Linked DNA regions of Homo sapiens: region 1 is linked to region 2. A link means that fine-mapping ties the variant in region 2 to the expression of a gene that starts in the linked region. Tissue or cell type: whole blood. Region 2 holds a variant in brackets; the other region holds the start of a gene. All regions are shown on one strand. Distances are from middle to middle.

Region 1 (4,130 bases), 22 kb before region 2:
CCACCTGATGCATCCTGTTAGGCACTTATGGGGGATATGAATATCTTCACATGCCCTCACCACTCCAAGAGGGTTATCTGTAAGTCTCACGGACAGATCTTTTACAAATTTTCCATTTTGTTCTTTCCAAGAACCTAAAAGCTGGACAATCCATTAGACACTGCCTGTAAGTCAGTATATTTATCAGTTTGTCATGTCGTCCCCTCCTTTCTTGAATGTGAATAACCAGGTATGTAGCTAGAAATTGCCCACTAGGAAGATTCGCTGTCCCCATTAGCAATGCACGGATCTGAAATTGTCTCACTTCTTTACATATCTGTCTGTCTCCCAGATTAGACTATAAAATCTCCATGAGAACTAGGACTGTGTCTCCTGTTCGCACAATATCCCTAATGTCTAGCACATAGAATATATTCTAAACATATGTGGCGTAAGTGATTGATGCATTTTCTTGAACATTTGGAGAGAAAATGTTAAGCAATTAAACTTGTAACCAATTTAAGATTTTTTTTAGTACATGTGACTGTATTATGAAGAACAATGCAAAATTTGGAGCAATTTACAAGAAGATGGAACAGTTCAAGTAAATTTGCCCATGACACTAGTGACTTCAGGCTCTTTTATGTATGCAACCTAAGTGATGAATAGGGAAGTACGTGTTTATGGAATCTGTCATTGGTGGTATTTCAGTGGGAAAATGTGAAAAGCTCTGATTTTGAAGGGTTGCCAGAGAAAGAGGAACAGGCAGAGGAAACTGAAAGAAGAATTTTTTTTTTTTTTTTTTTTTTTTGAGACGGAGTCTCACTCTGTGGCCCAGGCTGGAGTGCAGTGGCGCGATCTCGGCTCACTGCAAGCTCCGCCTCCCGGGTTCAAGCCATTCTCCTGCCTCACCCTCCCAAGTAGCTGGGACTACAGGCAGCTGCCACCACTCCCGGCTAATTTTTTGTATTTTTTAGTAGAGACGGGGTTTCACCGTGTTAGCCAGGATGGTCTCGATCTCCTGACCTCGTGATTCACCCGCCTCGGCCTCCCAACAGGCCTGAAAGAATTTTAACAAGCAGGATGAGCATAAAGGCAAAGTGGGGTTGTCAACATCAAGGAAACAGAGTGTTGGGAAACAATGGTCGACTTTGTCAATCGCCAAAGAGACTCCCAGGAAAAATGAGGGCAACAAAAGTATCAGTTGGATTTAGGAGGCCACTGCTTACCCAAAGAGTTCAGGTAGAATTGTTGGGAGGTGCAGTGGTTGGAGAATCAACTCCGTGAATAATGAATTGTGTTGACACGGTACATAATACGGTATTTCTGACTACATTGGCGGCATTTCACTAAGTAATTACTACCTGAAGTGCCTACCTTCAGTAAGGCATCCTGTTGTTGGATGGGGAAAGAGAAGGAGGAAATAACTCTTAGCTTTACCTGTACTGTGCTTCTGAGACCCAGGTATGGACCTTCACTCCCAATTTACTATCCATGGTCTCATCCGATGTTCAGTAACTGGGTTCTCCTTTGGCAGGGAGTAGGGATTGCCTGAGAATTAAAAGGGGAGGGGAGATTTCTGAACTGGACCTCTTAGGTTATGACTAGATTGGGTGCCTGAGGCAGCAATGGGGCTTTATAAGGCTTCTTTACGCTTCATTTAACTAATTGCTTTTTTGTTCTCTCTTATTCAGTGGAGTTCCAATCTGTTCGGTTGTGGAGAACGAACCTGAGAAAAAGGATCTTTCGCAGGGTAGTTTTTGGGGGCAGAGGCTGATGTGCTGCACCCCCTAATCAGGGGTATGGTTGGCTGCAGTAGTCAAGTGAGAGGGCCGCAAAGGGAAAGGAAAAGTCGAGACTATCTTAGGGAACCAGGAGAGTCGCTGTACCTCTGAAAGATCTACGGTTTGTCTGGTCTGTAAGGAGCAAACACGGTGGAATTCCTTTCCAGATTTTTCTGGGCCTCGACCTCTGGCTTTTGGGGTACATGCCAAAAAAAAAAAAAAAAAAAAAAGCGCAGGGAGAGTCCACTAGCCTCGGTGACAGTTCCCCATTGCGGTTTCCCCTCCTCCACCCTTCTTTGCGAGCTCCTTCCCTCTGCAGAGAGTTATCCCGCCACATTAACCCCTGACTCACAGCTGGACCGCCCCGGCCCGCAGCGCCACGTCCCGGGTGGGGCCTGCCACGGCAAAGCAGCAGTCCGGCCTCGAGCGGCCCCTCGGGGGCGGCGGGGTGGGCGCCAACAGCAGTCAGGCCTGACAAGCGGCGACCTCCAAGGGTGAGGCCTCTGCGGGCCCCCGACTCACGCGCGTCCGGGCTCTGCAAGCGCGGTGGGGAGCAGGCTGCTGTGGTCGCGGGGACTGGGTTGCGGCGCGCCGCGTACGGGACGGCCCCAAACTCTCGACGCCCGGGGCAAGACGCCCACCCCCTGGGCGCTCTCGCTGGGCCAGAAAGGAAGACAGAAAAGCCGCGGGCTGACTGTGGTGGCGCTCGCCTGCAGGCAAGTACCGGGCGCTAGGGCGGGGGCCGCCGCCGGGGGCGCGGGGTGGGCTGGGGCCAGGCCGCCAGGGGCGCGGGGTGGTCTGGGGGCCAGGCCGCCTGCGCTACCTCCCCAGCCTACCCGACCCGACGGCGCGGGTGCTGGCGCTGTTGTCCCCAGCGGGGCGGGCAGGCCTTTCCGTCACTTGGCTTACTCTGAAGGGAAAATCCACACAGCTGTCTGCCTTTTTGTTTCATTTTGACTAGAAAACCCATTTTCGAAAAGACACCTCAGAACCATAAGCAAATAGCCCAGAGTCTTAAATGCTCTAAAGGCTCTGCATGAGCCCCTGCCAGGCACACAGAGCCAGTGCTGGAGGTTTTGGCATGGGTTTTCCTACTTGGCTTTTTGTGCAAAGCTAATTTGGATAAAAATAATTTGACTGGCAGCTGTGAGCTAGTTTTCAGTGTATTAGGACCTCTCCAGCTTTCCACGGTAGTAAACTTCTTAAAGAAAGTATTTTAAAATATTCTCATATTTATTATTATTTTTTAATTTATCCTTTTAATTTTGAAAAGCAAGGGTGGGAAAGGCTATATGATCTGGAGGTAAAAATACACCATTATATAGAGTTGAAGTGTCATCCCCTGAACCCACATTGCACGTCTACACAGGAGAAGAACTTGTCCTTCTCCAAGTGTTTAGTATTCCTTAGATTAGTGTTTTTCAAACAAGCCTGATGGTAAGACGCATTTGGGACTTTTGTTTAAAATGCATCCCCCCACCTCTGAAGGTTTAATTTGGTAAGCTTGATTTCCAGAATCTGTATTTCTATTTTTTTATTGTTTAATTTAATTTTATGTTCTGGGATACATGTGCAGGACTTGCAGGTTTGTTACATAGATAAACGTGTGCCATGGTGGTTTGCTGCACCTATCAGCCCATCAATCCTTACATTTTAATATTTTGAAGTAGTAGGATGGTTATAAATGGAGTTAAGCAACTCCACTTTATATCTCATTCAAATCAGAAAATAGATAAGCAGGTATAGAATATTGACACCTACATTTGAAGCAAAGTAAATGTGACATGTACGCCTTACCGTATGGAACTTGAAGTATAAACCATGTTTACACTGTTGAATCATGGGCATCTGTGTTGAGTCATTTGTTCCTTATGCTATTCTTAAAATGTATTCATTTAACAAATATCTGCTGTTAAATCTTCTGTCTTTAATCCCCCCTAGACCACACATCCCATTCTAGGTCCCGCTCCCCTACTTTGCTTCTTTTTATAACAAACAAAAATCCTCTTTGAAAGATTTAATCTAAGTCTCCATTTTCATTTTCCCTGTTTCTTCCTACCCCCTCTCATCTGAGGCTTTTTGTCCCCATTACCCCCTGCATGGTCCTGATGTTGCCAATGACTGTCTTGTGAAATCCAGTGTCTGTGCACAGTTCTCATCTTTCCTGACCCCTCAGTAACATTTGATCACTCCCTCCTCAATATTCTTTTTTCTTCACTAATGTTCTTCACTAATATTCTTTCTTCTTCACTTGGCTTCCAGGTCACCATATTCTGCATTTCATTCTGCTTCATTGTGTCTCCAGGCTTCCCCACCACTAAATCTTAGTATGCCACAGAGTTCATTTCTTGGCCATATTTTTCTAGC
Region 2 (4,262 bases):
ATCAATGAAGAGAGTCCAAATTAATTTGGTTTTATTATTTTGGATGGATATATGTCACATTTTAGAGTTATTATGCCTTAGAATACCTCTTGGTAACTAGCACAATATACCGTGGAGCGAGAACCTAAAGTACAGACAGAGTGAATGACGGAGTGGTCAGCAGTTTCCTCACTAGTCAGAGGCAGCTGCAAACATTTTTACTCACATACATTGAATGAAATTCTCTGTTTTTTTCCTTGGTTTTTGTTCCCATGACAGTTTTCACCACTTTTGTTGAACAGTTTCTTCTAAACCTGAATTATGTAGGCATATGTAGCCATGTTACTTATGTTGTTATGAATGTTATAATTTCTTCTTGAGGTATGGCCTTTGCCCATAAAGAACAAGTAGAAATGCTCTGGAATATAGTCTGTGGCTCACATTTGAAAGTATGAAACCTGTATTTATATATTCTAAATGTTCTGTCTTTTAATAAAAGAATTCCCCTTGAAACTGCCTGTCTGGGGGATTTTATTAGGAATATTGCCAATGTTTTCTGAAGACTTATTTAAATTAGATTCACATGGTATACTTTTCTTTCACAGTTGATCTAGTTCTTCCACTCTGAATTTAGAATTTTTTTAAATAAAAGAATGAGTCTAGGCCAGACGTGGTAGCTCATACCTGTAATCCCAGAGCTTTGAGAGGCTGAGGCGGGAGGATTGCTTGAGCCCAGGAGTTCGAGACCAGCCTGGGCAACATATGAAACCCCATCTCTACCAAAAAAAAAAAAAAACCAAAAAAAAAAAAAATTAGCCAGGTGTGTGGCATGTACCTGTAGTCCCAGCTACTCCAGAAGCTGAGGTGGGAGTATGGCTTGAGCCTGAGAGGCAGAGATTGCAGTGAGTTGAGATCACACCACTGCACTCCATCCTGGGCAACAGAGCCAGACCTTGTCTCAAAAAATAAATAAATAAATAAATGAATAAATAAATAACAACAAAAACAAGAATGAATCTAGACTATAATCATTCTTTGTTGATTTCACTGGAGAAAGTCTCAAGTCTTTGTTTCTAGAGTTCATTTCCAAACTGAGATGTTAATTTTTCCTTAGGTGAATAAATATATTTTCTTCAGTAGTTACAGGATTCGTTGGAAAAAGATATTTCTTACTTTTCACACACTCTTATTATAATTTATTCTCCATTAGATTCACCATCACCACAATGCCTGACTCCAGACAAACAAAAAAAAGCTCCGAACCAGTAAATCCTGGACATCATTTCACTTGACATTTCAGATCTTCTGTTTATGCTGTCAGTAGAGATGCTGCCAGTCATTGTTAGGATATTTGTGTTCTATTTTGTTTGTGCTTGATACAGAAATATATTTATGCTTAATTGAATATTCAGTTTCTTTATATTTTCCTGTTTCTAGTCTACATGGTAATTTGATAATGGAGAAATTAGATTTAAACTGCATGAAAAGATAAAGCGGTATGGTACCTATCACAAAAATACCAACGTAATTTATTTCAATCTGGAGGTTTGTAGTGCTAATATAACACCATTTACATTTTCCGAATGTCTCCTATTATATTAAACTGGACCCTTTATTTAATGTTCCCTTCGCTGCCTGTGATAGCCCTTGTAAAGCTCACAAAAGATTAGTAGTTTAGCTTCCCAATTATCTGTTTGTCGTTTATGTATTTGGATCTGTCTATTATAATCTTTTTGAGCTTTTCAGTTTGAATGAAAGTTTCCATTTTTAATGTTTTGATTAAATTTATA[A/G]TATTCTTCTGTTTTGTTACTTCTTTTAGATTGAAAAGAAATGCTGAGAAATACATAAAGTTTTCCTCTTCTGCCTTGGATATTTATAATGGGTATCGGGAAGTCTAAAATAAATTCCTGCCCTCTTTCTCTCTCTTGGGGTAAAAGGCACAGTGTGGATACAAGTCCAGGATATCATGAGTCAGATTCCAAGAAGTCTGAAGATCTATCCTTGTGTAATGTTGCTGAGCACAGCAATACAACAGAGGGGCCAACAGGAAAGCAGGAGGGAGCTCAGAGCGTGGAAGAGATGTTTGAAGAAGAAGCTGAAGAAGAGGTGTTCCTCAAATTTGTGATATTGCATGCAGAAGATGACACAGATGAAGCCCTCAGAGTCCAGAATCTGCTACAAGATGACTTTGGTATCAAACCCGGAATAATCTTTGCTGAGATGCCATGTGGCAGACAGCATTTACAGAATTTAGATGATGCTGTAAATGGGTCTGCATGGACAATCTTATTACTGACTGAAAACTTTTTAAGAGATACTTGGTGTAATTTCCAGTTCTATACGTCCCTAATGAACTCCGTTAACAGGCAGCATAAATACAACTCTGTTATACCCATGCGGCCCCTGAACAATCCCCTTCCCCGAGAAAGGACTCCCTTTGCCCTCCAAACCATCAATGCCTTAGAGGAAGAAAGTCGTGGATTTCCTACACAAGTAGAAAGAATTTTTCAGGAGTCTGTGTATAAGACACAACAAACTATATGGAAAGAGACAAGAAATATGGTACAAAGACAATTTATTGCCTGAGATGAAACATATAACATGTGGCTGGCTCTTGTTTTGTAAACCAAATGATTAATCTTCACTTGAGAAAGCAGTTTCTAGGAAATGTTTAAATAAAAGAGAGTCTTCACCTTAAAGAAACCTATGGAGCACAAGAAAGATAAATTTCTGCAGGACAGCCTATAAAATTGTGGTACTTTTTGATGTTTCAGTAAACTTGACATTGTCAGAGTTTCAAGGACTTTTCTTTCACAATTTTCCTAGTTCATGGATATGAAAAAGGAATTCTCAATCCATATTCCTTGTATTGAACCTTGAACAAAAACTTGTATGACAGACATTTTTAAAAATGTGACAACACTTTTATTCTCTGAATTTTGATCTCAAAGGACACAGAAAAAAAATGGCCCCAGGAGATCTGATCACACTTCCTCCTGAGGCACCTCTCATGGATGTTGCAATAAGCATTCGGGTACTATCACCCAGAAATATGAATTGCCAGAATAGAACATTTAGCATGTTAAGCGTTGATGCATATAAAATCAGAAATAGATGTGAGAATGGTGGAACTTTTTAAAAGAACCCAGTCAAATGTATTTTCTGCTGAAATCTGCATATTTGGAGGCATTTCCCACCACCGATTCACAGCCCATTTGATAGTGTGGTAGTTAGGGACTTCGTGGAGTGGTGTTCAGACGTCCCCTGGGGCTTAAATCTCTTCATATTAGTCATCATTTGTAACTATGGCTTTATTTGCAGAGCTTCTAAAAGGCGTATAACTGTGTGAGTGGCCAGATATTCACTTTTTAAATCAAAAACCTCTCTTATGGAAGCTTTAAAAGTTTCCGTCACACACAATTCTCTTCTCAGGAAGTATTTCTCATTTAGGTCTTCAAAGTAGCCTGACTGTGTGCATGTGTGTGTGTGATAGGTTATTTATAAAGACTTTGGATAGAAGGAGATGTATTTTATTACCTCCTATTCTAGAGCCCCATGCTCCTAACAAGCCAGAGAGGCCCCAAACAGGATTGTTTCTTTCCTCCACAGCCCTTCTGCCCATCTGAGATTGAGGGAGCATCGTCCACTTGAGATCAGGGATGGGGTGGAGAATGGGTCATGTCATGTAATGAGAAAAGCCCTCTTCGGGATCATGAGACTTGGTTCTAGTCCAATTTCTGCCACTGAGGATGAATGTAACTGTGGGCAAACTATTTACCCTCCTTTATCTGTGAAATGAAAGGGTTGAATTGATGGATCTCTAAAGGCTTTTGTCCTCTATGAGGATGTGAAAAACTAGGGACCACAAAAGGGAACAAGCAAAAAAGTTTGGATTCGATAAAGTGATATGTAATAGTTGCAGAAGGCTTTATATATGCTTATAATGAAAAGATATTTTTTGTATATTGACAGCATAATTTATTTTTAATGCTGTCATTACACTTAAAGTCACAGGAAAAAAATATACATGCTTACTCAGGCTTTCTTAAAAATAAATTTTTATAGAGATCCTTGAGTAAAGACATTTTGCTTAATTTCTTTTTTCTTATTCCCCACTTGTATATCCCCTACCAGTACCGGGATCTGCACACATCTTTTTGCAGTTACCTCTTCATAGCCATGAACCAAAACGTTCTATGAGGAGCATGCAAGTAAGTCAAGCCTCCTATTCTGTTAGTACTTATTAGAGGAGGAGATGGTTTTCATTGCATAGTGACATTTTC

The links. PIP is the estimated chance that this variant, and not a neighbour inherited with it, causes the effect.
Region 1: it holds the start of TICAM2, and the variant in region 2 is fine-mapped to the expression of TICAM2 in whole blood (TOPMed, PIP above 0.99).

What each region holds. Positions count from the first base shown.
Region 1 is chr5:115,600,446-115,604,575 of GRCh38, reverse strand. TICAM2 (TIR domain containing adaptor molecule 2) reads left to right here and starts at 2,097. Exons shown (of 2, transcript NM_021649.7): 1 at 2,097-2,479. All of the region lies in intron 3 of TMED7-TICAM2 (TMED7-TICAM2 readthrough), which reads left to right. TICAM2-AS1 (TICAM2 antisense RNA 1) reads right to left here and starts at 2,421. Exons shown (of 3, transcript NR_109875.1): 1 at 2,116-2,421; 2 at 1,420-1,530. RefSeq lists a silencer at 2,106-2,605 and enhancers at 2,225-2,747, 2,696-2,775.
Region 2 is chr5:115,578,852-115,583,113 of GRCh38, reverse strand. It overlaps TMED7-TICAM2 (TMED7-TICAM2 readthrough), which reads left to right. Exons shown (of 4, transcript NM_001164469.4): 4 at 1,799-4,262. The coding sequence ends at 1,799. It overlaps TICAM2 (TIR domain containing adaptor molecule 2), which reads left to right. Exons shown (of 2, transcript NM_021649.7): 2 at 1,799-4,262. The coding sequence starts at 1,858. The coding sequence ends at 2,565. Among named protein-coding and RNA genes, the nearest start is that of TICAM2-AS1, 21 kb to the left of the region's middle. The variant A/G (reference allele first, on the strand shown) is at 1,770.